Regions from separate parts of the Homo sapiens genome. Here region 2 is linked to region 1. Evidence: fine-mapped expression QTL. A gene starts in region 1. The other region holds a variant in brackets. All regions are shown on one strand. Distances are from middle to middle. Region 1 holds the start of TCL6 (T cell leukemia/lymphoma 6). Region 2 holds the start of LOC124903372.

Region 1 (2,909 bases):
GTGAGCCACGCTGGGAGCAAAGATGGTGGTGGCTAGGTACTTGCTTATCCCTATACCAATCAGCAGGATGTGGGTGGGGCCAGATAAGAGAATAAAAGCAGGCTGCCCGAGCCAGCATTGGCAACCCGCTCGGGTCCCCTTCCACACTGTGGAAGCTTTGTTCTTTTGCTCTTTGCAATAAATCTTGCTACTGCTCACTCTTTGGGTCCACGCTGCTTTTATGAGCTGTAACACTCACCGCGAAGATCTGCAGCTTCACTCCTGAGCCCAGCAAGACCACGAGCCCACCGGGAGGAATGAACAACTCCAGACACGCTACCTTAAGAGCTGTACCACTCACCGCGAAGGTCTGCAGCTTCACTCCTGAGCCAGCGAGACCACGAACCCACCAGAAGGAAGAAACTCCGAACACATCTGAACATCAGAAGGGACAGACTCCAGACACGCCACCTTAAGAGCTGTAACACTCACCGCGAGGGTCCACGGCTTCATTCTTGAAGTCAGTGAGACCAAGAACCCACCAATTCCGGACACAGTGCTGAGAATCATGCCTTGAAATCTAGCAGCTCTGTTAAAAACTGAGCAAGGTGTACTTCGGGGTTGTGTTGAGAAGGTTGGTGTTCAGCTAAATCAGGAGGGAAGGCCAAGGAAAATCAGGCTTGGCACCTGTCAACAGGTGGGACCCAATAGCCAAGCAAATGGTCCTGCAAACTGTACTACCCAACGTTCACAGCAAGGATTCCAACTTCTCACCAGGGCATGGAAAATTTGCCTTCATGTCAACCACCACCTTAGCCCTTGACTACCCAACGGACTCTTCCCAAGTCAACAGCCACTTCCTCCCTGGGGCTTAACAGGCATTCCTTGAAGCCTGCCCCGGGCAGTTAGTCCTTCCCTTTTGTGTGAACTCTCGGCTGTTTTCGTTGTCTGCACACAGAGCAGTGGTCTAGGGAGCGAAGGGTTTTGGAATGGACCTTTTCCTTTCTTAGCTTGCTGTAGGGATTGTGCTTCAGCTAAGTAAAGTGGAAAAACAGAAGTACAAAAGCAACAGCCCCAGATCTAAGGGCACCGTAGCTCTGGAATCTGGATTTTATTCCAGATTCAACCCTCAGCAGGGAGTTGAAGTGGTCAGCCCTGTGCTTTACAAGGCTGATTGGGCAGCACCCATAGTAGAATTGTCAATATAAAGTAATTGAAAGGATCAGAATCCAGGGTTTTCGTTGTTTTTAAGTTTTTAAGTTTTAAAAACAAAGTTGTTTTTGTTCGTTTTTAAGTTTACTTCTCTTTAATCGGTCTCACTTTATTGACCAGGCTGGTTTCGAACTCCTGGGCTTAAGTGATTTCTCCTGTCTCAGCTTCTCAAAGTGCTGGGATTACAGGCGTGAGCCGCTGCACCCAGCCCAGAATCCAGTTTTAAAGAGTTTATTCAAGCCAAAAGCTGGGAATGGCCATCTGAGAAACACAGACTCTAGGAAAATGGGGCCAGGGCCCTGAAGTTAAAAGTTAAAGTCTTGCTTACATAGGCAGAAAGCAAAGACATTTAGTAACCTTGTAGAACATTTTCTTGTATAACTTTTCTTGTTTTAACTTTCTTGTTTAACATTTTCTATGCAAGGCTGGTTTATGAGTTACAACCTATAATTAATTATAGGTTGTTCCCCTGCCTCCACCTTGTTTTCTTTTCTCTACAGCTTGTTTTCATTTCCTTTCCAATTTAAGAATGTGTTTAACATTCTATCCCAGACAATGTGATGGTCATGAAGTCTCTGTCAGAGAGGAAAGAGGGAGTTAATCTATAATGAAGATCAACAGTGAAGAGGAAAGGGGTCTTCCCTGGAACGCTTCAGTCATATACGACATTTTACACAACAATGTAAGTAAGGAAAAAGGCTAATCTATAATCAGAGAAACAAAGGTTGCAGCTGCCTGTTTACATGACTCAGGTCCCATGATCAAATTCCCTTAAGGCTCGAAATATTTTAAAGTTCCAACAGCTTAGATTTTGAATTGCTTATTTTCACAGAATGGACCTGTGTAAGGAGGTATGTGTGGGAGAAGATTCCAGAAGGTCTTGAGACACTCCAGATGAAGGTTGGTGTGGGGCTGTGCTGCTGGAGCACCAGAGAGTGAAAAGAGGCAAGCGATTTATAGTCTCATCAAATATCGACAAGTTTGGGTTTTCCTTTAGAGTTGGGCAGGGCCTGGCTGGACTTCTTTCTCCACCAGTCTCCGGGAGGCTCAAACAAGTTCTGATTTTCAGGTTCTGAAAAAGCTCTCAGGGAAAAAGCAGCTTCCATTCTGTTTTTTTTCCCTTTCTGCATTCTACTTCCCTTTTATTTTTGGCCTGGTAATTTCTGTCTTATCAGCTTTTAGATGTCCTTGAGATTTTTCTTTTCTTTCATTTTTTTTTTTTTGAGACAGGGTGTAAACCAAAAACTCTTTTATTCTTTTTTTTTTTCTTTTGAGACAGGATGTAAACCAAAAATAAAATTCTAAGCCCCGCCCTCCCTGCAACCATCTGAATGGACTTCCTCCTGGGCCAGGGTACTTTTAACCTGAAAGACTGGTTCAGGCCATGATGGAAAGTAGAGGTCAGACAGGACTCATTATACCTCTCTGATGAGAAGCATTTACAATCTATTTTCTCTGAAGCCTGCTACCCGGAGGCTTCATCTGCATGGTAAAACTTTGGTCTCCACAACCTCCTATCACAGCACAGACATTTTCTTTCTATTGAGCCCAGATCTTTAGATAAACTTAACCAATTGTCAACCAGTCAATTTTAAATCTACCTGTAACCTGGGAGCCCCCAACCTCCACCCAACAATTCAAGTTGTCCCACCTTTCTGGACAGAACCAATGTATTTCTTAAATGTATTTGATTGACATCTCATGTCTCCCTAAAATGT
Region 2 (2,909 bases), 14 kb after region 1:
AGAAATCAGGGAGTTGTGGGGACCAGGCAGCCACTGTGCATCAGATAGGAGTTTCAGCAGCAGGCAACAGAAAGCCTGCCAATGTAGCTGAAATAAGAAGGGCTTATTTTTATCCCTGAACAGAAGCTTCCAGCACTGGTTCATCAGATCAGGGCACTGAGCTGGCATCCCCATTTATACAGTTTTCCTTTCCTTCACCTTTGTAAGATGCCTGGCACAGCTCTGAGCATCAAATATCTGTGCCATGTGGGAGCACACGAGGGGACAAGTGGGGAATAGGGTCTCCTCTGTCCTCTGTCCCCAGGCTGGCTTCTCTCGTGGTAGAAGGACCCCCACAGCACCAGGCCTCATAACTACCCTGCTGGTAAACTGCAGGTGCTGTCACGGCTTCCTGCCTTCGTATATGAAATGTTCCTTGGCAGCTGGACTGCTGTTTGTTTACCGCACGCACAGCTCTGCTGCCTCTTGGTTACACCAGTGAGCTATTGCTCCATGACAAGCCACACCGAAATGTAGCAAGCACTTATTGTTGCCCACATGTGTCAAGTCAGTTGAGTGTTTCTGCCAACCGGGGCCTGGCTTGGCCCACCTTGGCTGAGCTTGCTCTGGTGCTAGGGTCAGCTAGACAGGTCGGCAGGAGACCAGCTGCTCTAGAAGAGCCTGGACAGGATGAATTGGTTCTCCTTCCACGTGCATCTTGCATCCCTCCAGCCAAGGATTTGAACCCAGGTCTCGTCTGACTCCAAATGCACCAAGAGGATGGAGCCCAGAGTGACACAGAGGAAGAGGCCCCTGGATGGATGCATGGGGAAGGTGAGGCCTGGAGGTGATATGCTTGAGATTACCAGGCTCTTCTGAACCTGGGGGACCTTCTCCTATGATAGCCCTGCTCCTCCAGACCCAGCAGGTGATTTCCCCAAAAGCCGCTTACAGTGAACGCACCTGATAGCAATAACTTAAGCATCCCCTGAGAATGACCCTTATGGCAGGTGCAGGTGAATGTGGTTTGGAGTTCTGAGCTAAGGAATCTGGGAGTGGCCAACCTGGAGATTCATTCCTATTCCTTATCTATGAGGAACATCTGAGCTCCTGTCCCGTCCTGTGCAACACGGACAGTACAGGGGATCAAGGCCCTTTGTTTTGGGTTAGGTAAATGTTGCCAGGTGGACACTGTTGGGGGAGGGTGCTAAGTGAAGATGCTATATATGCTGCAAGCTTTTTGTAAGTTGTGTGGCTCTCCTGCCCAGCCCACCACTGCTAGATGCTCTCCCCTGCATGTAAGCCCCAGTAAAACTCCATGTCTCCTTCAGCAGCCCTGGGTCCTTTCTTCAGCCTCTCAAACCTGCTGCCATCCCCATTGGAGTAGATAGGGGTTCAGCATAACAGCAGCCACCAGCTGGGGAAAGGCGTGGCATTTGGAGCTCCCTACATGGTCTTGACTCTAATATGGAGGGAAAGAAAACAGATTCTGCCCTGCTCAGTAAAGCCCCCTACTGGCCTCCCACCCTGGACTGTGGACAAAG[C/CT]TTTTTTTTTTTTTTGAGACGGAGTCTCACTGTGTCCCCCAGGCTGGAGTGCAGTGGCGTGATCTCAGCTCACTGCAAGCTCCGCCTCCCCGGTTCACGCCATTCTCCTGCCTCAGGCTCCCGAGTAGCTGGGGCTACAGGCGCCTGCCACTACACCCGGCTAATTTTTTTTTTTTTTTTCATTTTTAGTGGAGACGGGGTTTCATCGTGTTAGCCAGGATGGTCTCGATCTCCTACCTCGTGATCTGCCCACCTCGGCCTCCCAAAGTGCTGGGATTACAGGCGTGAGCCACTGCGCCCGGCCAACAAAGCATATTTTTTTCCTCTGAGGTCTTTACCCTATAACTGCAAGTGGTTTCATGACACTGCACATGGGTTCTTATCTGGGGTTGGTAGATTCAACTCAATTCCACAGGTTTACTGGGTGTTGCCTCCCATGCTTGGAGCCAGGAGGATGCAGGGAAATGGGGCTGCCACCATACCCGCTCTTCTTATGATCCCATCACATCATTGCACCCTTTGGGGCCTGGCACCATGCTCTGGCACTTTGCCTCCATCATCTCCTTTAACCTCTGAGCTCTGTCAGGAAGGCATTACTACTATCCCTGGAATACAGACAGGAAAACTGAGTTGGATTGAGGCTCAGAGAGGTTAAGTCACTTACCCAAGGTCACAAAGCTAGAGAGTGGCAGGCCAGCATCCAAGGCCAGCAACACGAGCTCCCTCTGATCCAAATGGTGACTCTATGTTTGATCAGTGCTCTGAGAACTCTCCAAAGATCTTTATCAACTGTCATCTCTTCATTGCCCAGGCCCAGTCAGGGAGCCACTTGGCTGCGGTCCCGCTGAGATTTAGGGGCAGGACCCCTGATGTGAGGTGGAATGCTTGGTCACGCTGTTCAAGCCTCCACCAGTCACTCCTGACTGGTTATGGACACTCAATGTGCCCCGTCCTGTGTGCAATGCAGTGTGGGAAGGGGATCAAGGACCTTGGCTAATCCCAGGCATTTCCCCAGAATGTCCCAGGTGTGGACCCCTTGGGAGGTGCTGGGAAGCAGGCTGGTGTCCCACAGGCCTTGGTTCCATCCCAGCTGTGCTGTGCTAAGCTGAAACTCTTTGGGCAGCTTGTTTCACCTCATGAGACTTCTTTTTCTGAACTGTTAAATGGGATGATTCGACCTCTGCTTGGCTTTTGGTGACGATTAAACGAGATATTAGCTGTAAAGCATTTCATCCCGGGTCTGGTATAGAAGAAGCACTTGATAAATGAAAGCTCTGTTGAGTATGATGATCCGTCACCCCAGGCATCAGTGGGATCTCACAGCAGGAACAATGCCTAACTCCTAACTGATGCCCAGTAAACATCGGGTGGATGCAATGTCCAACA

Evidence for each region.
Region 2: its variant is fine-mapped to the expression of TCL6 in whole blood (INTERVAL, PIP 0.92).

The regions. Positions count from the first base shown.
Region 1 is chr14:95,650,354-95,653,262 of GRCh38, forward strand. It overlaps TCL6 (T cell leukemia/lymphoma 6), which reads left to right and starts at 1,744. Exons shown (of 8, transcript NR_028288.2): 1 at 1,744-1,873; 2 at 2,024-2,136.
Region 2 is chr14:95,664,264-95,667,172 of GRCh38, forward strand. It overlaps LOC124903372, which reads left to right and starts at 550. Exons shown (of 2, transcript XM_047432042.1): 1 at 550-813. The coding sequence starts at 760. The region is part of intron 4 of TCL6 (T cell leukemia/lymphoma 6); the gene reads left to right. RefSeq lists enhancers at 1,157-1,804, 2,451-2,909. The variant C/CT (reference allele first, on the strand shown) is at 1,524.